4 linked regions of the Homo sapiens genome follow. The protein of the gene in region 4 interacts with the protein of the main gene of each other region in a pairwise test. Each region holds a gene or a part of one and is shown on either strand. Other genes may lie near its edges.

The links.
Region 1: the proteins of SYNGR1 (region 4) and SPNS3 interact in binary tests that used the Homo sapiens proteins (3 or more experiments, as listed by UniProt).
Region 2: the proteins of SYNGR1 (region 4) and ADORA2A interact in binary tests that used the Homo sapiens proteins (3 or more experiments, as listed by UniProt).
Region 3: the proteins of SYNGR1 (region 4) and UNC93A interact in binary tests that used the Homo sapiens proteins (3 or more experiments, as listed by UniProt).

What each region holds. Positions count from the first base shown.
Region 1 is NC_000017.11:4,485,912-4,488,710, reverse strand, and holds the end of SPNS3 (protein spinster homolog 3), read right to left. Parts: intron 2,588-2,799; exon of another isoform or gene 2,484-2,587; coding exon 2,385-2,483; exon of another isoform or gene 2,300-2,384; coding exon 2,128-2,299; intron 906-2,127; coding exon 817-905; 3' UTR 507-816; downstream 1-506. UniProt on the Homo sapiens protein: Sphingolipid transporter.
Region 2 is NC_000022.11:24,430,571-24,437,604, reverse strand, and holds part of ADORA2A (adenosine receptor A2a), read right to left. Parts: intron 6,709-7,034; exon of another isoform or gene 6,043-6,708; intron 5,358-6,042; exon of another isoform or gene 5,171-5,357; intron 4,985-5,170; exon of another isoform or gene 4,879-4,984; intron 4,475-4,878; 5' UTR 4,201-4,474; coding exon 3,869-4,200; intron 1-3,868. UniProt on the Homo sapiens protein: Receptor for adenosine. The activity of this receptor is mediated by G proteins which activate adenylyl cyclase.
Region 3 is NC_000006.12:167,286,460-167,294,331, forward strand, and holds the start of UNC93A (protein unc-93 homolog A), read left to right. Parts: upstream 1-4,855; 5' UTR 4,856-5,030; coding exon 5,031-5,117; intron 5,118-7,872.
Region 4 is NC_000022.11:39,352,965-39,359,998, reverse strand, and holds part of SYNGR1 (synaptogyrin-1), read right to left. Parts: intron 1-7,034. UniProt on the Homo sapiens protein: May play a role in regulated exocytosis. Modulates the localization of synaptophysin/SYP into synaptic-like microvesicles and may therefore play a role in synaptic-like microvesicle formation and/or maturation.

The sequences.
Region 1 (2,799 bases), on a different chromosome or scaffold from region 4:
TGCCTATAATCTCAGCACTTCGGAAGGCCGAGGCTGGCGGATCACCTAAGGTCAGGAGGTCAAGACCAGCCTGGCCAACATGGTGAAACCCTGTCTCTACTAAAAATACAAAAATTAGTTGGGCGTGGTGGCACATGCCTGTAATCCCAGCTACTTAGGAGGCTGAGGCAGAAGAATCTCTTGAACCTGGGAGGCGGAGGTTGCAATGAGCCGAGATTGCGCCACTGCACTCCAGCCTGGACAAGAGCTAAACTCCATCTCAAAAACAAAACAAAACAAAGAGTGGAATCACGTAGAGGGTGTCCTGTGCCTGTGACTTTGCAGAATGGAGAAGCTGGGTCAGAGTGGGAGGTCCAGGCTGCGGACCCCTAGAGACCCATGCTGAGCCAGCCCCCCAGCTTCCCCACTTCAGGACAGCCCTGCATCCTTGGCCTGGACTGCCCATCCCGTCCTCACCCACTTCCCCTCCAGCAGAGGCACGAGAGGCTATAAATAACACGGCTGTCTACAGGCCCAAAATCCATGGGCTTTGTACTGGCCTCTCTTTATTCAGGGCCCAGCAGCAGCCAGGCTGGAGACCCCAGGCTGGGGCAGCCTTGAGCGGGATGCAGGCACAGGCCCAGGCCTCCCACGCAGAGTGCTGACAGCTCCATTCCCAGCCCAGCCACAGGGTCCTGCCAGCTCTCCAGCCGGGAATTCAAAAGTGGCAGATGTGCCTCAGCCGGAGTCCCCGAGGACAGCCAAAGAGGAACCGAGGCACTGCTGCTGTGGGGACCAACGGGAGGCTTGCAGGCAGGACGAGTGTAGGCAGGGACCTCAGGGCTCCTCTGTAGAGGCGCCAGCGCCCGAAAGTAGGCCTTGTCTCTCCAGGTCGTTGCTGTCCACATCATTGCTGTCTGGGGTCCCTGCAGGAGGAAAGATGCTCAGCCTGCCCGAAGGTTGCAGAAGGTGCTTTGGGACCAGGCCTGGGCCTGGGCACGGGCTGTCAGGAAATCCTCTCTGTCCCAAATGCAGAATACATTCCAGATCCAACCCCTTGTCATCACCTTCAATGCCACTGGCGTGGTCTAGGCACCACTCTCCCCTGGAAGGGGAGTCGGCTATGCCTCTCGGCCTCAACACTGACCCTCCTACAGTCTGTTCTCAACACAGCAGCCAGGGAGATGCTTTGGCAACATCAATCAGACCACCTCGGTGCTCCTCTCCTGGAAGCCCCACAGCAGCTCCCGTCTCACTCTGAGCAAAAGCCACTGTCTTTACAAGGACTGCCTGCTCTGGCCCCGTATCCCTCACCCCTACCACTGTCCCTCTTGCTTCTGCTGCAGCCACACTGGCCTCCTTGCTGATCCTCAAACATATCAGGTGCATTCCCATGGCAGGGCCTTTGCATTGATTGTCCCCACTGCCGGAAGCGTCTTTCCCCAGGTCGCTGAACGGCTCACTCCCTCGTTTCCTCCAGATCTTTGCTCTAGTTTCGCCTGTGCAGTGGGGATCCTTGCAGCCTGCACCTACCTGTCCCTTTTTTTTTTTTTTTTTTTTTTTTGAGACAGTCTTGCTGTCGCCCAGGCTGGAGTGCAGTGGCGAGATCTCAGCTCACTATAGCCTCCGCCTCCCGGGTTCAAGTGATTCTCCTGCCTCAGCCTCCTGAGTAGCTGGGACTACAGGTGTGTGCCACCGCACCTGGCTAATTTTTATATTTTTAGTAGAGACAGGGCTTCACCATGTTGCCCAGGCTGGTCTTGAACTCCTAACCTTGTAATCCGCCCGCCTTGGCCTCCCCAAGTACTGGGATTACAGGTGTGAGCCACCGCGCCCGGCCCCTTTCTCCTTCCTTTCCTGCTTTATACCTCTCCATAGCACTCGTCACCCTGAACATGCTATATCTTTAACCTTTTCTGTTTCTGGTCTGTCTTCACCAACTACAGTGTCAGTTTCTACAGGGGCCTGGACTTGGCCTCATTCTTTCACTCCCCAGCATCTGCAACCTTCCCTGGTACATAGCAGGGGTGTACTAAGCATTTCTGGATGAATGAACAAACAAACTGGCCAGGGATTCAGGGGGTGGCCAGTGCTGTCTGTCCCTAGGGTGCCGGCCCTGAGCCGGGCCTGGTGCAATGGGTAGGGTACCTGTGACAGGCTGCCAGGCCCGGGTCTCGTCTCTCTCCAGGTACAGCGCAGTCAGCAGGAAGCAGCCGCCCCCCAGGGCGATGACAAAGGCGCAGCACAGGAAGCTCTGCTGCAGGCTGCGGAAGCGCTGCAGATAGGAGTCAGGGCGCCTGGCCCGCAGGACACTAGAGATCTGCGGAGGAGAAGGGATGAGTCTGCCAGGCCCACCAGCCTGGCCCCCAGACCCTCCCCACCCCACACACGCAGACACGTCTTACAAGTCCTGTGAGATAGGGGCTGCCAGCGTCTCCCAGGATGTGGCCCACCGTGATCTGAAGTGCCTCTGCCGTCCCCCGGCATCTGGGCACCACCACAGACTGCAAAACATAGGCACAGCAGGGGGGCACCCCAAGTGAGGGCACCCTTGCCTGCTGTTCCCCACCTGCCAAGGACCTGCCTGGAGGAGTGACAGGCCATTCAGGTGAGTGGGATGGGAGGGAGTCGACGGTCCCCAAGGTCTAAAGTCCCACCCCAGAACATCAAGACATCAAGCCCATCTGAAGCTTCCCCAGTGCCCCAGGATGGGGGTGCCAAGGCCCCTGATCAGGGCCACCCCTCTTGAGAGTTTGCTCTTGAACTGGGAAGGAACCAGGCATGCATGTGACCACAGTGAATGAGGCTGGGGTGTCCCAG
Region 2 (7,034 bases), about 15 Mb from region 4:
TATACTATACTCTTTTGTTCCTTTTTAATGTTTTAGAGTGGGCAAAACATGACTTTTTTTTTTCTTAAATTGCAAATAGACTAAGTTTATTCAAAAGAAATCTCCATAGGCTGAGAGCCCTGGACCCTGGTGCCCACGGGGTGGGGACAGCATCAGGGCCCAAATGGAATCACAGCTGAGCCTCAGCCAGGCCCAGCAGCATATCCTGGGCTGCATCTGTGACCAACACACTCACATCTTGCCGTCTTAGACCCCAAACATTGACCATCCAGCTGGAAGGGATGCCAAGGCTGTCTAGCGTGACACACCACCACTCTGGGGTGCCCAGGCATGTCAGAGAATGTGGGTCCCAGAGCTGCTGCCCACCCTTTGTGGAGGTGCCCTCTGCAGCTCTGTGTCCCCCGGCTTGCAGGCTGCCCCTTTCTGGGGATCTCCATTACCCACACTGGGGGCTCACCCTATGGTCCAAGAATATGCCCCATGATTCCAGCTGGGGCTTTATGTGCACATGTCCCAACCTGAGGAGTAGGTGGAGCCTTCCTAAGTTGTCCAAAGGAGTCATTGATCCAAGAATTGAAGAGCCATGGACCCACAGGGAAACCTCCATTCCTTCCCCTGGTACGAACAGGCCTGACTTGGCCTCCACCTTTCCTGCCCACTCTGTTCATCTCTCTCTGTCACTAGGCAGCCAGGCCACCCTTCCCTACCCAGTGCTCACATGCTCATTCCTTCCTCAGGGTCTTGTCCCAGGCTTTGCCCCCCTCCTGACACACCTGCCCCCACACTCATGCCAGTGAGACCCTGCCTGCCCGTCCTGCAAGACCCACTGGGTGACACCTCCTCCAGGGAGCCCTCTCTCCCAATCCTGCCCTCTTAGAAGTGTTAGGACTTCGGGCCTCACCACCAGCTGCCACCTGCACCTTGGCCTGTTCCTCAAACCAGCGAGAACATCCACCAAGGGCTGCTGTGAGAGCCAGGGAGGGGACAGTGAGGCAAAAATCCCCTGGGAACTGGAAAAAGAAGCCTGTGTCTCTCACCCTGAATTCCCTATCCTCTGGGAACACAGAGAGCTACATCTCTGCCTCTGGCCTGAAGTCTTTCTCACAGAGTTCCTCGACTAGGCCCTGTGCTAGCCCAACAGGTTCCCTGAACTTGGAAAATAACAGATTTTTCCAAAACTGAGTTCTTTTTTTTAAAAAAAAAGTTAATGGAGAGTGGGGCAGGCCTGAGGCTAGACCCAGGGCTAGCCGAATGGACCTTTCTGAGTGGAGCAGGAAACGGCACGTAGAGGAGGCTGGATTCCCAGCTGAGAAAGGAGGAGGGAGGATCCTGAGGCAGGCTGTGACTCCAGCGCCGGCCAGGAGTGTCACCAAGTTCCTTTCATACCCCGCTTGCTCTCGGGAGCCCACATGGACACCTCCACATGCCCAGAGGCCCAGGGGCCCTGAGGAACAGGAAAGCGAAGGGACCTGCGGGCCAGGAACAGCCTGAAGGGCCCTGGAGTCCATCCACATCAGGAGACACTCGTATGTCCTTCCCTGCTCTGGCCTCCCCATGAGTTTGTGAGTAACAGGAGGGTCAGAACATCCGCCTGGCCACAATGCAGGCCAAGAGGATGACAGGAGATGCTGAGCTGACATCCTTTGGCAACTGCAAAGCTCTCTGCCCTCAAGGGAGGATGAACATCATCGTCGTCATCCTCTCCAGGGCCCCCTGCAGAAGAGACCAGCCTAAGCCTTGCAGAGCCTCATGGAGCAGAGTCAAATGGCTCAAGGTCTGGGTGGAACTAAGGTCCAGCTCCAAGGAAGTTGGGATGAGATGGGTAGAGGATAGGGGGCAGGTCCATGGCTCTGAACCCAAAGATCTGAATCCCCACCCTCCCCACGCCTCCAACCCTCCTCAGGGTCCCTGTCACCCCATCCACTCACTGGACCTTCAGAACACCTTTGTGAGCTCAGAGGGGCAGAGAGACTTGTCCTATTTTATGGATGAGGAAATGGGCCCAGAGAGAGGCAGCTAACTTTCCATAGCCACACAGCACATCCTGTCCTACTACATAGGGAGTCATTCTCTCAACTCTCAGAAAACAGAGAAGGAAAGGGAGAGACAAAAGAGAAAAAAAGTCGAGCTCCTTTAAATTGAGAACGGCAGCCCTGATCATACCCTTTGAATCAGAGAAAAAAGTGAGAGCTTGGCCTCTGCTTCCCCATAGAGCATCCCATCAGTGTGCAGACTCAGCTTGGTTCCCTGAAGTCCCCTCCAGTGCTTTGTTCTCTGGCCCACCTGGGCACCTGCAGACAGGGCCCCTCCTGGGCCTCCGTGTTCTGAGCTGCCACTGGACGAACCTAAACTCTGCTCTGCCCGTCGCAGAGCAATGGATGGAGGCTCACCAGAGACTGCACTTGGAGTCCGACAATCCCTAATTCCACCCCTCTCAGGGCTGGCCAGGGTCCCCTTCTCCTTTGCCGAGGGTTCTAGACTCTCCTGGGATAGAGAGCATCTGACAGGGCAGTGTGAGGTCCAGATTCCTCCCCTTCCCTGGAGCAGCCCAGTGCAGCTCCTGCTCCCACTTAGAGCCCAGGTGACAGGGACAGCCACCTGGTGCAGGCTCTGCGAGACAGGCTGCTCATGACCGCTCCCCAGTGACTGAAGTCACAGTGGGGATCAGGCCACATTTCTTTCCAGGACTCGCCCCAGCTCCACTACCAACTCGTTGTGTGGCCCGGAAACAGCTGGCTGTCTTCTCTGAGGCTCATTTTCCATCCCGAAGATGAGAGGAAATGACCTCTAAGGGCCCCTTGGCTTTGACGCTCTAAATTTCCATTTGCTCATCTAGCTGGGTCCTCCTTCCTGCTGGGGCACCCTCAACCTGCTGTGGCTTCCTCTTTAGATAGGCACCCACCAGTTTCAGATAATTCACCGCAGAGATGGTGCACCCTGCTCCCTGACTCTCAAGAGGCACCACCTCAAGCCTCATACATGGCCTCAGGGCCCACAACCACCCAGGCTGTGGAACCCAGCTCTGTGGCAGAGGGGCCAGGAGGTGGGGCAGAAGGCCTCTGACGTCCCCAAGGGAGGGATGCACTTTCTAGCCTCATCTATGGCCTGGGTAGGTGGAATCCATGCCGAGTAATTCAGCCTCTGGGAAAATCTTCATTTGCACAATTACTTGGCTGAAGTCACTTCACAAAAGATTCACCATAAAAATCCCCTCCAACAGCCAGCCCCTGAGCACACTGGCTGCCTCTAAGACGATGAGTCCTTGGTGACTTGAGGAGCAACAGAATTTGCATATAGGTCCAAGTGACTCACTGTGGCATTCAACCAAGTCACTTCCCCTCTCTGGGTCATTTTCCTAATGTGCACACTGCAAGGCTGGCCCAGAGGATCTGGGGGAAGGCAGGTGGCGGGCGGCTCCTAACTCTGAGGTCCTATGGTTTCCCCTGGCTCCCCACTCCACCCCAGCATCATCCGGGAAGTTTTGCTTGTGTGTGAGGAATGGCCCAGACACACCCGCTGGCAGCACGTGGGTCACTGGGACCACAGCTCCCTGCTAAGCCCAATGCCAGACCCTGGCCACACTCATCTGCCAAAAAGCAGAGCACAGTTGGCCTCAGGCAGCCTAGGGGAACCCAGGCCGCCTGGGAGGGCCAGGCTGCCCTGCGCCCATAGGGGTCAGTCAGTTCGGCATGACTGCTGGCCACGTGCTGGCCCTGGGGAGCCCCTGCTGAGCCTGGGGCCCCGTCGCCAGCTCACCATGCTGACACTGCAGACCAGGCCCTGATCCCAGGCTCACCCTGGCTCCGGGCACAGACCAAAGCCTGGGCACCAACAGCCTTTGCACAGATGTAACCCCGGCCCTGCTCACCGGAGCGGGATGCGGATGGCAATGTAGCGGTCAATGGCGATGGCCAGGAGACTGAAGATGGAGCTCTGCGTGAGGACCAGGACGAAGCAGGCAATGAAGAGGCAGCCGTGGCAGGCAGCGCAGAACCCGGTGCTGATGGTGATGGCAAAGGGGATGGCGAGCACACCCACTGCGATGTCGGCCGCCGCCAGTGACACCACAAAGTAGTTGGTGACGTTCTGCAGGTTGCTGTTGAGCCACACGGCCCAGCACACCAGCACATTGCCCAGGATGGCCAGCACAGCAATGGCCAGCTCCACCGTGATGTACACCGAGGAGCCCATGATGGGCATGGCCACAGACGACAGGCAGGCTCAGCACGGACGCGGGCTGGGCCAGCTCACGGTCCATTGCTGCAGCCCAGCCGCCCGCCTGGCTCCCAGCCCGGCCCAGGCGGAGGGGCCCAGACCCCTGAGCCCCTTCCTCACAGGAGCCAAGTGCAGCCCTGCTGGGGCGCTCTCCAAGGGCTTTTTCACAGAGGACTCTGAGTCTCCTGAAACCAGGCCCTCTGCAGGGGTTCTGGCAGCAGCATCATGGCTCAGCCCAGCTTCAGGGTTCCTGAGGCACCTGCAAAGGGACAGCCGATGAGAAGCTGAACCATCTGCAGAGGGCGAGCCCTGCGGAAAGTGCCACCCCTTACCCCACACTTGGCCCCCTGAAGACCCTATAGTTTCAGATCCCACCCTACCCACAGGCCAGGTGTCAGCCTGAGGATGGCCCCTGACCCCGCCTAGCCCCATGCCCTGCCTGGTCTGCTGTGGTCATAGCCAGGAGGCGAGAGAGGTGGGAATTTGACCCTCACTTTAGAGGAGGACACCCAGAGAAGTCACTGAGCAAGGCTGGTTCCCCTGGTCCAATAGAATTCCCGCTGAGACTCCCACACAAACCCCTCCCAAGGAGGCAGCCCCTTCTCCCAGGCTCTGCAGAATGAGTACTGCCCTAGCTGGGCCCCTGCCAGGACTCCAGCTCACCCCAGCACTATCCATGGCTCCCTGCATTCCCTGCTCTGCGCATTGTTGTCACGGTGCCTCCCACTCTGGACTCAGGGCCAAGGATCAGATGTGGTCTGTTTTTTTCCTGGGGGAGCCAGAAACTTGTTAAAGTCTGTCAGTGTTGGCCCCCCCATGCTCAGCCTCTCAGGCCTCCTGTGGCAGCTTGGCCAGTCTCCTGGGTCCTGGATCTCGGCCAGCCCCATGACACTCCCTCCCAGAAAGGCCCCTCCCTGCCCAGGCTCTCCCAGTCCCACCCACCTTCTCTCGCCAGGCCAACTTCTCAGCCCCCCTGGCCTGCTCCATCCCGTCAACTCTCCCAGGAACTACCAGCACCCACCTAAGGGACACCAGCCGCCCTGTGAAAGGACAAGCCAGAGACCCCTGGAGCTCGGATGTGGAAGGATGTGGGGAGCTGCCTGGTCCTGTCTCCCACTGCCGCAGAGGGTAAGCCCTCTCATACTGCGCCCGAACCCGCTGCCTCCAGGTGCCCCTGCCAGTCAGCTGCAGTCAGGGCAGGGGCGGCGCTGCAGCTGACTGTGAGCTTCCACTCGGAGGGAGCTGCCTCACCTCCCTCCTCCCACGCCCTCTCCCCCACCTGCTCCTCTGCCTGGCTGACACCAGGAATGACTAACGGGAGTTTGGTCCCTGGCAGAAAGCAGGTACGGAACCAGGACTCACTGAGGGACTCTGGGCAAAAATGCTTTTCTTTTCTGGGCCTCAGTTTCCTCATTGATACGGTGAGGCAGCTGGACCCCAAATGACCTCTAGGGGCCATGCCAGCTCTCACCCATGATTCTATGAGAAGGAAATAAACAGATTTAAAATGGCTCCCCCAGAGTCAAAATGGAATTACTGACACCCCTCAGAAGCAGAAGTTTTGGTTCCCCAGCAGGCCTGAGCCCAGCCCCAACTCCCAGTGTCCCCTTCGAGCCTGTGAATGGTCTGGATCCAAATGGACCTCTGCCCGTTAAATTGCCCCTCTTTGAGAGCTAAGAGGCCCCCAAATCTACCCCCTCCAATCCTGAACCCTCATGGGGCCCTATGAGTGTGTTGCCAGCCGCCACCACCTGCCTGGGGACAAGAGGTCAGAGGCTGCCTTTCACGTGGACTCGGGCAGCCACCTCGTCTCTCTCTCTCTTCCAGGACATGAGGGATGGAGCAGGACTGGCAACCTGGAGAGGAAGTCACTCCTGGTCCTGAGCCCTGTTCAAAGGGCCAGGCTCCCCTCTACCCCATTGTCCATGTGACAGAGCTCAAACACACAGACCCCAACTTTCCCTCCAACTCCAATGCTGTCGGCACCTCAAGTGGCTGGAACAGGATTGGCACGGGCTGCAGCCATACCTGGGACTGGAGGTTCTCCTGCACCCAGCAGGCCCTTTTGCCCCTACTAGGAGCCTGGGAATGGAGCATTGACACAGAAGCAGGAGGAGGAAGGAGAGAGCAGAGCCAGAAACCCTGCAGCAACGGAGGGCCTGCAGCAGCTGGAGAGGGCCGAGTCCTCCCAAGCCCCTGCTTTCCATGGAGCACTTGCCAGGCAGCCATTCACAAAGTGTGTCGTTGGCAGGGATGCACCAGACCAGCTCTCCTGGCACCATCCCTGGCCACACTCAAGGAACACAGTTATCCCTGATGCTCTTGGCCTCTCTCCCTGAGCAGTACTCACCAGGGCCCACCTGACTCACGATAGCCCCTGCCCAACAGGTACAAGTGGAGCTGGTGCTGGCCCCGGGCTGCCTCCCACCCAGGTGCCTGGCCTGTGGCTCCAAGGTGGACTCCCAGGCCCAGCACCACCAGCAGCAGCAACAGGCGACTGTCCAGTGAGGCCCAGTGGGCCACTGAGGAGCCGCCTCTACCCAGGGATCCTGCCTCCCACCACGGCCCTCTCTAGGGCATCTGCATTGAAGGATGCCACAGCCTTCTGCCAATCTGACCATCCCAGGCTAGAAGGCTGATGCAGCCCCAGACCACGCTCCAGATTCAAGGGCCTTGCTGGGGGCAAACAAGGTGGAACATAACACGTCTGCCAAAGTGAAGGAGGACTCCCCAGTCCCATCACCCAGAGCCCTGCTGGTGGGGTCAAATCATCGGCGCCTGCCTCACGGGCTGGACTGGTGCCATGCCAGCTGGGATGC
Region 3 (7,872 bases), on a different chromosome or scaffold from region 4:
AGAAGCCACGCGCTGCAATAGCGGCTGGAGCGAAGGGACTGCAAATAGGTCACGTCACCCAGGATGGCATTATCTCGCTTGGGGACAAAGTTCAAATTGTATGGATGTTTGTGGTTGTGAGAGCAAAGGCACGAAATTATCTTTGGAGATTTTTGGGCGTAATTTCCCATCACTGTATCTTTGTCTGTATAGACAAAAATAATTGATAGAAAAAATACCTAGAAAATTCAAGCATCAGCCGGGTGCTGTGGCTCAAGTCTTTAATCCCAGCACTTTGGGAGGCCGAGGCGGGCGGATTGCCTGAGCTCAAGAGTTCGTGACCAGCCTGGGCAACACGGTGAAACCCCGTCTCTACTGAAATACAAAAAATTAGCTGGGTGTGGTGGCGGGTGCCTGTAATCCCAGCTACTCGGGAGGCTGAGGCAGGAGAATTGCTTGAACCCGGGAGGCGGATGTTGCAGTGAGCCAAGATCGCGCCACTGCACTCCAGCCTGGGCGACAGAGCAAGACTCTGTCTCAAAAAAAAAAAAAAAAAAAAAAAAAAATTCCAGCATAATCAGCACTTTCTGCCCCTCATCCAGGCTTAGAAGACATGTAAGTGGTTGGCTCTCGGCTGTACAATCACAGCCCGGCTTCCTCGGCTATCCAATCACAGCCGTATTTGGCTCTCAGCTGTCCAATCATAGCCATACTTGGCCCTCAGCTGTCCAATCACAGCCCGGCTTCCTCCACTGCTCGCTGCACTCAGCTGGATCTTTTCCACCCAAAGTGCCACTTGCTCCAGTTTGCAGGGTTCATAGAAACGGCTGCTGAGCTGCAGACCTGGTGATGCTTGGGTCCAGCCGAGCTGCTCTCTCCAAAGCTGGACACTGCTCTGCCGCCCGTGTGGAGATGGGGTGTGGATAGCGTGTGTACCACCCCATACTCCCTATCGTCCCACCTGCTCTAGTTTTGGGATCGCACTTCTTCTCTCCATGGGAATTTCAGTTCTCTATTTTGCTTAGTTGTTCACTGTTTGGTTCCTCCACTAGAACTAGGCTTCTGTGAGAATGGAGACCCCTGGCCCTTTTATCAGTGTGGTACCCCAGTACATTAGGAAGGATGCCTGGCCCAGGGTAGACGCTCAATAAATAGTGTGGACGACTGTAGAAGTGGGTGCTGTATCCCAGGCTGCAGAGGGCTCATGGGAAAGGAAAAGGACCTACGAACTTGGAAAATAAAAAGGGTGTGTGTGTGTGTGCATGTGTGTGCATATGTGTGTGTGTGCATGCGTGTGTGCATGCGTGTGTGTGTGTGTGTGCACTGTGCACATGAGTGTGTTCTGAACCAGGACCTACACGATCCCCCTGACTATGAGAGTGGAACAGGCCAGATTCTCCGCACTCGGGCTCACCTAGCGTTGCCGCCCTGACAGGGAGAGTGGAAGACGGTGATCAATCACAGAGCTGCTGCTCTCCTTCATTCTGGTGCAAAATGAGGGTGCCTTAGCCCAATCAGATGCTGTTGTTCAGGGACCCTGCAGGCCCTTGACGGTCTTGGCTGGGTGGTCAGGCCACTCACATGTCCCAGGTGGAGACGTGGGCTGAGAGAAAGACCCAGAATCCCAGGACATCACCAGCAGCTTTAACCACACCGTGGAAGCTGGGAGGATTCACAAATGGTGTGAGGATGGGAGTATTTCCAGCCAGGCTTGCCACACGATGGGTCTCTGCCCTCTCTGATAAGTAATGGAAATTAGCTAAGGGTCTTGGCTGAGGGCCTGACATAGCCAACTGGCCCCAAAGCTTTTTCTCTGATTGGCTCTCTGGGTTCTCCTTGGCCGAGGAAGAAGCCAGAGCCCCGAATGCCCGCTCAGCTCAGGAGGTGGCCTGTCTAGCCAGGGGAAGGCGGAGTGGTCAGCCCCCGCCAAGATTTAAGATGCTTTGGAACATTTGCTAAGAGAAAATACTCTCTCAAGCCATGGTTGTGTTAGCACAAATTGTTCTTCCTTACACACACACACACACACACACACACACACACACACACAGCATGAGTACATTTATTTCCAAAGTGTGAAATTCCCTAAAGTAGCCAAGAACTCATTCTACTCCCTATAGATACCTTCTTCATCTTTATGTGGATAAAAAGATGTAAGATACATTTGAGTTTATTTGGTATTGCTTTTATTAACAAAGATTTCAGATGTAAATGTCAAGAAAATTGATATTAATTTGCTTACATGAGTACATTCCTTAAAAAAGCAAACCATTGGGTAGACTTCCCTTAAATTAATCTTTAGATTCTTGGCAGGAAGTTTGGTGATTTACAAGGTGATTCTACAGCATGAAGAACGCATGGCGCCTGTGGTGAACTCAGCCGTAGCAAAACGGTGCCATCTAGTGGCTGGTGAAGTCTCGGTTTTCCGGAACACGCGTGCTCTGAGCTTTGTATCACCCAGGGCATCTGTCATTTTAACGTCCAATGAGTGACCTGCAGATTCGAGCAGATCTACAGAACCACCTCTTTTCTCAAGCTGATAGAGCCCAGATGTTAATTTTAAGGACTGAAGTGGCTATTGACACCTTTTAAATCCTTTACACGTACCCGTCTTTGGCCTTTGGCAGGTCAGCCCTGGGCCAGGCCATGGCTCCAGTGCACACACAGAGCTCATAACGCCAAAACCAGCTCTGAGAGCCAAGCCAGCTCTGGGTTTCTAGAGGTTGCACTCTCTTCCCTCAGGCAACTCCATGTCTGCAGGAATGTGTAGGCTGCGGGAAGGCAGCCTCAGGGGTCGGGTAAGATAAGAGTGTCCCTTTGTTTATGACGAGACCACTGGGGGACCATGTCTAAGACCTGCCCTGGTCACAGGAACACTGAGGGGTGCTGGGAATTATCTCCTCTAAGAGAAGCATTTTATTCTGCTACAGAGAAAAGGCAGAGAGTGAAATATACTGTTCATTTAAAAAAAATCCCTTTTAACATAGATAAAGGGGAGGAACTGGGAGGAAAAGAGAGAAAAAGCAGACGTAACTGAAGCCATGGTTTCAGAAATTCAATCCTAGTAGAAGTGCTGGAGGGACAGGGAGGGTGTGGCTGGGAAGGATGGAAACAGACCAGGTTTATTTGTGCACAAAGGGAAGCTCCTTAGAAGGCATAGGCTGGTGAAGGGGAGGGGAAGAGCAGCCTCTGGAAACAGCCCCCAGAGCCAGAGAGCGAGTCCTAGAGGATGGGGCTGGTGAGTTGAAGCAACCAAGGGAGAAAGACCAGCAGACAGTGCAATAAAACATCAGGAAGGTCCTCTAATATCAAAATACAGGTCATCCATGGGAACTAATGAGAGGCCAGAACTGAAGTAAACTAAAGTGTTGCCAAAAAATAAAAATAAGGTCCAAGTTGATTGATCGATAACACGGTTAGTATGAAGAAGTCCACATTATGCTAATTTCTTTACATATTATTCTAATTTGTATTGTCTCTGAAAGTCAAAATATCATCTTAGTCAATTAACATTTATTGGTGATAACATTTATTGGTGAAGTTGAACCATATATGTATCTTGAAGTTAACATTTTTGCTATATATCGGGTGCTGTTCTAGGGGCTTTCAAAATTATCCAAGTCTTGAACTTTTGCAACCCTCCTTTTTAAAGAGGAAACAGGTTCGGTGACTCAGTGACCCACCTGAGATCACCTAGCTAACAAATTACAGGATTAGGGTGTGAACCCGTGGAGCTCATCTGTTTCCATGCTCAGAATCCCTTTGCTAGACTGCGTGGCTCTTATGTCTATGTAAGCATGATAGTCCATGTTTAGTTAATATAAAAAGCTATTGTTTTCATAAAACTTTCATTTTCACTGAAATACATTAAGTGACAAGAACTTTACCCCATTTATCATTGGCCCTGATCTTCTGATGGTCTGGCAAGCTTCCCTGAGTAGTGTTGCCAGGATGCTAGACTTACCTGCGAGATTTGCCTTATAGATCTAATCTAGACAGAAATGGCTGACTTCACAGAACTTTGGAAACAATCTGCAGACATCAAGTTTTACTTATAATTGAATAAAAATAATTTTTCTTGCTTATTAGCTATGACATTTGTGGTAAGTTGCTTAAAGCTCCAGACTTACCCCGTCTAATACAGTTGTCTCTAGCCACATGTGGTTAAATTTTAATTGTAATTAACTAAAAGGAGATGCAGTTGTGAACTCATTTTATCAGTTGCACTTGCCACATTTCAGAACTCAATAGTCACATGTGGCGAGTGGCTACCATACTGGACAACACTGCCCCAGACCAAAATACCAAATCATTTAACTTTTCTGAAGCTGTTTCCTGTCTTATAATGGGTCTAAGATTTCTAATGATCATTAGCATAGCACTATTGTTGGTAACATGAAATAATGCATGAAATTCTTTGCATATTGTAAAGTACTATACTCATGTAAGTTGTTTTTTCTTTTAATAATTGCTGTACTGTGTTGTGAAACTGTACAGTCTTTGCAATACTAAGACTTTGGCCCCAGGATCTTACAATCACGTTAGCTCTTTTTCAGAAGTTGAACTATGTGTCTTGAAGTTGACATTTATGCTTTGTTCTTTAAGACTGAAGTCCTCATTCTGCACCACTGACAACTTCTGACAGTTTCTCTTACTGTGGAAGGTTCTATTCTATATACACATAAAAAGTGAAACATATCACTTTACCATCTGGACCATGTCTATTAGAATTTAATAGGAAAAAAGCGCAATTAACTAGAAGCTGGTAAGAGTAATGATCTTTTGCCCCATACAAAGTGGACATTGTGGATCACAGAGAAGGTAAATGAGTAACAGAGCTCCCGTATGCTTCATGGGGTCAGTGATAACCAAGTTCATTAACGAGTGACAGTCTTAATGACTAACACACCTCTAACATTTCACCTCTAGCTCAGATGAGAGAGAGAATGGGACTTCTTGGTACTGATTGTTTTTCCCATGCCTCAATTGGTTTCTTTTAGGGAGCTACAAATTTACGTGTTCACTGGTGATTGATCTTTTCATCCAGCACAATGGACAGAAGTCTAAGGAACGTCCTTGTGGTTTCCTTTGGGTTCCTGCTTCTCTTTACAGCCTATGGAGGTCTGCAGAGCCTGCAGGTATGTGTGTCCGGTCATCAAATTACCTGAACTTCTTGGCCTCCAAGAATCCCTGTGGTCACAGACAATAATGAATTGGAAATTTGAAAAATCTAATTCACCTGGTGTTTCTTTTTCACTCTGTACCAAATCCTCTAAAACAAACAGTGGTTCTCAGATGCAGTCCTACAGTGAGCAGTTCCCACTCACGTCTCAATAGGATTGCACAACAGCGAGGTGCACGTTGCTCTTGGACAAGGACAGCAGGGGTCTTGGGACTGTGATTTGTTGGGACATTCTTTGCCTTTGGGTGGTTAAAAGGAGACACAGGAAAAGTCATTGTGAATTCTATGATTGATTGGATGCCCTTGGCTTTGTGGTTAGGGGCAGCCATGTGAATTTATCAAATGTCACTAGACCTTATACATTCCAAGCCTACTCTAAGCTAAACTGTGAACTTTGACAACATGATCTCTCTATACTTTGAACTCCTTATGGCATGCTCTCCTCCATAGTTCCGTGAGCCCATGAAAAAGCCAAACGGCATTCTCCGAAAGGCTGCAGCATTCATCATGTGCACCTAGACATAGACCTGACACATTTTCCCAAGCTGGTTACATTTCAAGTCTGATCTTTACCTGGATTCCAGTCTGAATTCCAGGGAATTCCAAGGGCTGGTCAGGAAGCAGGGCTATTGTTACTCCCCCGGCTTATTCATTGCCACAGTGTTGTACCCTGTGGCCTGGTGTGGTCACATAAAACATTTCAGAGCTTCTGATGACAAATTAGTGTGGTCTTACATGGTTCGTCAATGAAGAATAAGAATTGGGCACCTACTGTGTGCATAGTATGGAACCAGAAAAGCACACCTGGGAACTCAGAATCCGAGGTTTCTCCTCTCACTGTTGTTGTGCAAACACTTGGGACTCCTGGGTTGCCAAGGAAGCTGGAATTCAGTCCTGAATTCTCAAGTAATGTTTCCTTTTGCTGAACTCCTATCTGGTTCTATTTCTGATCAGGCTTACAGAGGATAAAATGGCAGCCAACAGTGACTCTCAAAGTCAAGTGGAAGGGAACACAGTCTCTTTTCTTGCCGCAATGGTTCATTACTTTTGGAGTCCCTGCTTTGCCCAGAACTTTGTGTTGTTGTCACAGAATGCTGGTGTGAGTGAAATGCCTGTTGGGTTGAGGTGAGTGCATGTTGAATGTGGTTGGTGTGCACTTTCTGGAAGGAGGGAGTCTCAAGGATGTGGACTGGTCAGTAGCCCTTTCTCTTTAGAAAGCTCACCTGCCTGCAGAAGGAGACCCTGCTGTCCTCCTGGCACAGCAGCTCCCCTGGGGTCAGCATTCCTAGGAACCGACAGCTCCCCTGGGGTCAGCATTCCTAGGAACCAGTTCTGGTGGATCCGCTGTGGCTCAGCCACTGTCTGAAAATTGGCCTCTGGACTTGGAAGCCAGAGGAAGGGGGCTGGAGGGGGCTGGGAGCTGCCAGGGGTCCCTCCTCTCAGGCTGTGACGGCAGGACCCAAGGCTGTGGGCAAATGCGGGCAGACAACCCTTTGCCTCTTCAGCCCCAGTTTGGGGGTGCCTCATTGGGGAATCACTCATGGTGGCATCTGGATGAGCTCCGCAGCTGTGAGCAGCTGCCTGGGGAGTAGATTGTCCCACGCCCCGCCAGCACTTCCCACTCCTCCTGGGCTGGTGGAAGTGGGAGCTGCTGTCTCATGATGTCAGCCCTTCCTTCTCAAAAGACTGGAGATGCAGGGGAGCCAGACCTCCCTCTCTGCAGGGCCCCAGGACTGTGGAAGGGTCCCCTCCACTCCAGCTCCACCCTGGTTCGAGGCCCCACCCGGGCCTATTGTCGGCAGCTGACCTTGAGCATGCGGACGTGCTTTAACCCTCTAACTGGGACAGCTGTCTCTGCTACTCAGGACTGGCATGGGCAACACAGAGTGTTCAGATAGAAGTGACTCAGGATTGGTTTTGCCCCAGCATGCTGAGGAGCCGAGCCCACCTCTCTCCAAGAACCCCAAGGCTACTATGGGGTTGGCTTCGCTCTCAGGCCCCAACAAGGCACATGCATCCCCAGGCTCCCTCCTCAGAGCTCAGCAGCCCCAGTGAGAAGACAGGGCCTCATTCCAGAGAGTTCTCCTGAGTCCTCACCCTGGTCTGGACTAGGTCCCCTCGTCCAAGGACAAAGGACGCTCTTTTGTGGCACCTCCCCCTGTAGCCACCACCTCCTTTCACCCTTTCTGGCTGCAGGCCTCCAAGTTCTCATTCAGCTCTCAACTTGGAGGTCACCTCCTTCTCCCCACCCTGCCCTGGAGCTGAGGTCTGGATGGGGCACCCAGCACCCTCGTGGCGGTGTGTGCCTGCCCGGGTTGTCTCCACCAGTGGTGGCGGCCTGCAGTTTCCAGGATACGAGGGCCACGTCCCTGGTCCATTCTCAAACCTTAGACAGTGACGGGCACTCGGAGGCGGGCGATGGATATTTGGTGAAGGAAGAAATCATTCATGTGCACTCAGCTGCTTCATATCCTTCGGGCCTCCCCATGGGCTGAAGGACCCCTTACATTCCCTGGGAGCACGCAGGCTCCTCACAGATGAGTTCTGGCAGAGTCTCCAGCCCCATCCTGTCACACTGTCCTGTTCTCAGCTGAGATTCAGGCAGGTGTCCACAGAGGCGTGAGCGGCTCTCACAGCCATCCAGCCCCGGCGCAAGCACTCACAGGGGTGCCGGGCCTTCACTCCCTGATGTTTAGACACACTAACTGCTT
Region 4 (7,034 bases):
GGACCAAGGGGTGGTGAGGGCCAGTGCACAGGGGAAGATCAGTGGTTCAGAGGCCCCAGGCCCAAGGATCTAGGATCAGGGGAGGGAGAGGGAGATGGAAAGGTAGGAGGGTTGGAGGAGACGCCTGGATGGAGGATCAGGGAGTGCGAGAGGCTACTGGGAAGGCAGGGCCAGGCCTAGCTAGGGTCCAGCTGGTGACAGTTGGCTGAGGCTGGCGGACAAGACCATGCGGGAAGAGGAGGCCAGGTGTGGAAAGGGTCACAGAAATAGACACTCCAATGACCAGGACTGGAGCAGGAGCAGTGCTGGAGAGGACTGACACCAAGCTAGGGTGGGCATCTTTTTTTTTTTTTTTTTTTTTTTTTTTTGAGACAGAGTCTCACTTTGTTGCCCAGGCTGGAGTGCGGTGGCGCGATCTTGGCTTACTGCAAGCTCCGCCTCCCAGGTTCACGCCATTCTCCTGCCTCAGCCTCCCGGGTAGCTGGGACTACAGGCCCCCGCCACCACACCCGGCTAATTTTTTTGTATTTTTTTTTTTTTTAGTAGAGACGGGGTTTCACTGTCTCAGCCAGGATGGTCTTGATCTCCTGACCTTGTGATCCGCCTGCCTTGGCCTCCCAAAATGCTAGGATTACAGGCGTGAGCCACCGTGCCCGGCCTGGGGGGGCATCTTTGAAGAACGGGCAAAGTGGCCTCGAGCTGGCTCATCATGAAGGGGAGTGGGCGACCCAGTGCTGGTGTGAGATTCAAAGCTGGGGGACAATGTCCTGTAAGTGGCCTCAGGAACCAGAAGGACCCTGTCGACCTCTACACCCAGCAGAGGGAGGGTCTGAGGGATAAAGCAGCCCCCACTGAACAGGCTGCAGGAAGCAAGGTCTGGGGCAGGCCAGGTTACAGTGCAATTTACAAAAGGTGTCAGGGACATTCTGGGAGGGGCTGAAGGCTCAGGGACTCTTGCCCCCTGCACTGTGAGGTACTGGAGGAGCCCCAACTTGTTAAAGCTCCTGCATGATTGCAGCTTGGGTTTGACAGCTTGGGGCTGTCCCAGCTACGCAGCCGCCCCTCTCTCCAGGTCCCCTTCACCTGGCCCCTGCTCCACCAGCAGCGGGGAGATGAGCAAAACTCTATCTGTGAAGGGACGTTTGTCCCAGAAACACAGGGCATGACTGCCCTTCCAGGCTCCAGCTGATGCCGTCTGCTCTGCTCTTGTGTCCGGAATTGGTGGGTTCTTGGTCTCACTGACTTCAAGAATGAAGCCGCGGACCCTCTCGGTGAGTGTTACAGCTCTTAAGGTGGTGCGTCTGGAGTTCGTTCCTTCTGATGTTCGGATGTGTCCGGAGTTTCATCCTTCTGGTGGGTTCGTGGTCTTGCTGGCTCAGGAGTGAAGCTACAGACCTTCGCGGTGAGTGTTACAGCTCTTAATGCCGCGCGTCTGGAGTTGTTCGTTCCTCCCGGTGGGCTCGTGGTCTCGCTGGCTTCAGGAATGAAGCTGCAGACCTTCGCGGTGAGTGTTACAGCTCATAAAAGTAGTGTGGACCCAAAGAGTGAGCAGTAGCAAAATTTATCGCAACGAGCAGACGAACAAAGCTTTGGAACTGAGCAGGTTGCCAATGCAAGCTCGGGCAGCCTGCTTTTATTCTCTTATCTGGCCCCACCCACATCCTGCTGATTGGTAGAGCCGAGTGGCCTGTTTTGACAGGGCGCTGATTGGTGCGTTTACAATCCCTGAGCTAGATACAAAGGTTCTCCACGTCCCCATCAGATTAGTTAGATACAGAGTTTGGACACACAGGTTCTCCAAGGCCCCACCAGAGCAGCTAGATACAGAGTGTCGATTGGTGCACTCACAAACCTTGAGCTAAACACAGGGTGCTGATTGGTGTATTTACAATCCCTGAGCTAGACATAAAGACTCTCCACGTCCCCACCAGACTCAGGAGCCCAGCTGGCTTCACCTAGTGGATCCCGCACCGGGGCTGCAGGTGGAGCTGCCTGCCACTCCCGCGCCGTGCGCTCGCACTCCTCAGCCCTTGGGTGGTCGATGGGACTAGGCGCCGTGGAGCAGGGGGTGGTGCTCATCGGGGAGGCTCGGGCCGCACAGGAGCCCATGGAGTGGGTGGGAGGCTTAGGCATGGCGGGCTGCAGGTCCCGAGCCCTGCCCCGAGGGAAGGCAGCTAAGGCTCAGTGAGAAATCGAGCGCAGCGCCGGTGGGCTTGCACTGCTGAGGGACCCAGTACACCCTCCGCAGCCGCTGGCCCGGGCGCTAAGTCCCTCATTGCCCGGGGCCAGCAGGGCTGGCCGGCTGCTCCGAGGGCGGGGCCCGCCAAGCCCACGCCCGGGTCCGGGGCCAGCAGGGCTGGCCGGCTGCTCCGAGGGCGGGGCCCGCCAAGCCCACGCCCACCCGGAACTCCAGCTGGCCCGCAAGCGCCGCACGCAGCCCCGGTTCCCGCTCGCGCCTCTCCCTCCACACCTCCCTGCAAGCTGAGGGAGTGGGCTCTAGCCTTGGCCAGCCCAGAAAGGGGCTCCCACAGTGCAGTGGTGGGCTGAAGGGCTCCTCAAATGCCGCCAAAGTAGGAGCCCAGGCAGAGGAGGAGCCGAGAGCAAGTGAGGGCTGTGAGGACAGCATGCTGTCACCTCTCACTCCCATGCATAGACCTGGGGCCCAGTGCCCCCTCTGCTGCAGGCTCCTACAAAGCATGAGGGGATGGCTCCAAACATCACTTTTTTTTTTTTTGAAACAGAGTCTTGCTCTGTTGCCTGGCTGGAATGCAGTGGTGGGATCTTGGCTCACTGCAACCTCCGCCTCCTGGGTTCAGGCGATTCTCGTGCCTCAGCCTCTGGAGTAGCTGGGATTACAAGCATAATCCTAGGCACCACCACACCCGGCTAATTTGTGTATTTTTAGTAAAGGCAGGGTTTCACCATGTTGGTCAGGCTGGTCTCAAACTCCTGACCTCAAGTGAGTCAACCACCTTGGCCTCCCAAAGTGCTGGGATTACAAGTGTGAGCCATCGCGCCTGGCCCCAACATCACTTCTTTAAAGACTGACCAATCCAAAGTTCCCAACCTGGAGTCCACTAGGAGCAAGAGTGGGGTTCTTCAAGGGTGGAAAGGTCGGGATCCACCAGAGCAATCCAACTATCCTTTTCCCATTTGATAGATGGGGAAACCAAGGCCAGGAGAGCATGGGCCTCTTGCTCCAGTCACACAGCCAATCACTGGCAGAGAGGGTGCAGAACGCAGCCTCAGGTCTCCAGGCCAAGGCACTCCTCTGCGCCTACCCTGCCTCCCCTCCCACCTGACAGCTGGTTCTTCCGGTCTGGGTGCCAAGTGTGGCTCCCTCCAACAGCCCTGCCATCTGCCTCTCCCTTCCTCCCTCCCTCCTCCTCCTGGCTTCTCCTCCTCTCTTCCCTTCCTCTCCCAGCCTCTGTTTTTTCTCCCTGGGGCTCAGGCCCGCCCAACAGCTTTGCACACGCTGCTCATGTGGGACTCCCCACATGGCTGGGGACTCCCTGGAGCAGGGGCCATGGGTTCCGATCCCAGTGACTCCAGTTAACCTCTCTGGGCCTCAGCTTTTCATCTAAGGAGGGGATAACAAAACGCACCACAGCAGACTTACGGCAGGCCTTTTAAACTTGCATTCAGGCCAGGCAAGATGGCTCACACCTGTAATCCCAGCACTTTGGGAGGCCGGGGCAGGCGGATCACTTGAGGTCAGGAGTTTGAGACCAGCCTGGCCAACATGATGAAACCCTGTCTCTACTAAAAATATAAAAATTAGCCGGGTGTGGTGGCGGACATCTACTCAGGAGTCTGAGGCAGGAGAATCGCTTGAATTTGGAAGGTGGAGGCTGCAGTGAGCTGAGATCGTGCCACTGCATTCCAACTTGGGTGACAGAGCGAGACCCTGTCTCAAAAACAAACAAACAAAAATAACTTGCATTTTCTTTTCCTTTCTTTCTTTTTCTTTTCTTTTTTTGAAATGGAGTTTCACTCTTTTAGCCCAGGCTGGAGTGCGATGGCGCAATCTCGGCTCACTGCAACCTCCACCTCTCGGGCTTAAGCGATACTCATGCCTCAGCCTCCCAAGTAGCTGGGACTACAGACGCGTGCCACCACGCCTGGCTAATTTTTTGTAATTTTAGTAGAGATAGGGTTTCGCTATGTTGGCCAGGCTGGTCTCGAACTCCTGACCTCAGGTGATCCACCTGCCTCTGCCTCCCAAAGTGTTGGGCTTACAGGCATGAGCCTCCACACCTGGCCAAAATTTGCATTTTTATAAACTCTCGAGGCCTCCCCAAACCCAGGCCCTCCAATCCCATGTTACAGATGAGGCAACCAAGGCTGAAAGAGGTAGGGGTTTTCCAAGGTCCCGCTCTGATGGCCCTGCTCCTGATGCCCTAGGCTTTCTCAGGCTCTTGAGGCCGCCCCTGGGCTGTCCCTGGACATGAGGAAGTGCCCAAAACACAGCAGAAATCTATCACCTCCCAGCGGTCTCCTTGCAGCTGACCCTGTCCTAGACCTGAGAGAGAAGAAGCGGCGGAGCGGCCGGCCACAGGAGGTGAAGAGGTGAGAAAGACTCCAGGGTGGTCAGCAATAAATAACAAACAAGGGCCGTGGGCCCACCTTCCTGTCTAGGTGACAGGGCTGTGCCCGGTACTGGGAGAGGACAGGCTGGACGTGACCACGCATTTCCAGCCACAGAGCCCTCTCCAAACCAAGCTTCCACAGGAGCTTCCGAAATACCCTTGACCCTCTCTCCAGCTTCCCACTGCCCTCAGAGGAAGTCCAGCTTGTGAGTCTGTCATCCAAGCCTCTCCTGGGCCACCCCTTGGGAATTCCTTCTTGTAGTGACCCGAGCCTCTGGGACAGTGCTTCCCACTCAATCCTGTTCTCGTTATTGGAGCGAGAGTGCCTTGGGGTGGCACTGAGCACTCAGCTGGCACTGAGCAGGGGACTTGTGGAATGAACAAATGAACATCAGAACTGGCCAGAGGTTCTGTCTCTACCCTGGACCCTCTTCCCCAACAACCGCTGGTCCCAGAATTTTCCTGTGGCCCCATGGCTGGCACATGGCAAGTTGGTTGGGGGAGGCAAGGGGTCTTATCTTGAAACTGCTGTGTTTACAAAAAACGTTCAGCTTTTTTTTTTTTTTATTTGAGACAGAGTTTTGCTTTTGTTGCCCAGGCTGGAGTGCAGTGGTGTGATCTCAGCTAACTGCAACCTCCGCCTCCCGGGTTCAAGCGATTCTCCTGCCTCAGCCTCCTGAGTAGCTGGGATAACAGGCGACCGCCACCACGCTCAGCTAATTTTTGTATTTTAGTAGAGATGGGGTTTCACCATGTTGGCCAGGATGGTCTCGAACTCCTGACCTCAAGTGATCCACCCGCCTTGGCCTCCCAAAGTGCTGGGATTATAGGCGTGAGCCACCTCACCTGGCCAAGTTCAGCTTTTTTATTCAGTGTTCACTTGGGATGATGGGGGGTGGAGTGGAGGGGGTGAATAAAACCAGGGGTATGAAGCTGCCCCCCTCAGGCCACCCCTTGGTGCCATGGATATCCAGGCAGAGAACCCACAGGGAGTACACAGAATGTGGAGCCCAGCAGTCCGGGTTCAAACCAAGTCTCTGACAAGCCCAGGCCTTGAGCTAGCACAAGTCACTTCTCCAGGCTGAGCCTTAATTCTGTCATTTGTAAAACGGGGGGAAGATACCCACCCCACTTACAGAACCATGTGGTATTATGGCCAAAGCCCTTAAAAAATGAACCCTGAAAATGGCAACATTTCAAACATTTTATCATTTTCATTTTGTCAAAGTAGAGAATTAAAGAAACATTGACTGGGCACGGTGGCTCACACCTGTAATCCCAGCACTTTGGGAGGCTGAGGCGGGTGGATCACTAGGTCAGGAGTTTGAGACCAGCCTGGCCAAGATGGTGAAACCCCGTCTCTACTAAAAATTTAAAAAGTAGCTGGGCATGGTGGTGGGTGCCTGTAATCCCAGCTATTTGGGAGGCTGAGGCAGGAGAATCACTTGAAACCAGGAGGCAGAGGTTGCAGTGAGCCAAGATCGCGCCACTGCACTCTAGCCTGGAGACAGAGCGAGACTCCATCTCAAAAACAAAAAACAAACAAACAAAAAACTCATCTGCCAGCACTGATATTCATTCCCTATAGTCCATCTTAGCCCCCTGCAAAAAAGAATATAAACTCCAAATAAAAGGTGGTCCTTTCTATTAAATCAGTTTAGCTTCTTGCTGTAACTCCTTTTTTTCCCATCTGGCTTTAGAACAAAGAAATGAGTCACTGACAGGCGGCAGTCACCGCGCAACAGATCAGGCACTTCTGACCCAGCCCAGCCCAGTTCGGGTGGGAAGACTGAGGCACAGAGGGTGGGGAGGGGACACTTACTGAAGGTCACAGCTGTGGCCTGGGGGTGCCAGGAGTGGCAGCTGATCTGCCACTGGGGCGATGACACCAAGAGGTGAGAAAGCCTTAGTCAAGAGACAAGCCATGCCGGATGCAGTGGCCCACGCCTCGCCTCATCGTCCCAGCTGCTCACAAGGCTGAGGTGGGAGGATCACTTGAGTCCAGGAGTCTGAGACCAGCCTGGGCAACACAGCAAGATCCTGTCTCTAAAAAAATAAAAAAGAGACAAGCCAGGTCTTGGAGGCCCTGCTTCTGTGCAGGCTGACCCAGGGGCTCAGAGGGCTTGGGTTCCAGGGTGGGTCCAGGTTGGTGAGGCCCTGAAGCTTACATGATTTGGGGGCCCTCTTTTGGAAAAGCAACAGAAAAAAAAATCTTTCTTTTACAAATTTTACAAAAATCCCAGGTCCAGGCCGGGTGCGGTGGCTCACGCCTGTAATCCCAGCACGTTGGGAGGCCAAGGCAGGTGGATCACCTGAGGTCAGGAGTTCGAGACCAGCCTGGCTAACATGGTGAAACCCCATCTCTACTAAAAATACAAAAATTAGCTGGGCGTGGTGGTGTGTGCCTGTAGTCCCAGCTACTTGGGAGGCCGAGGCAGTAGAGTT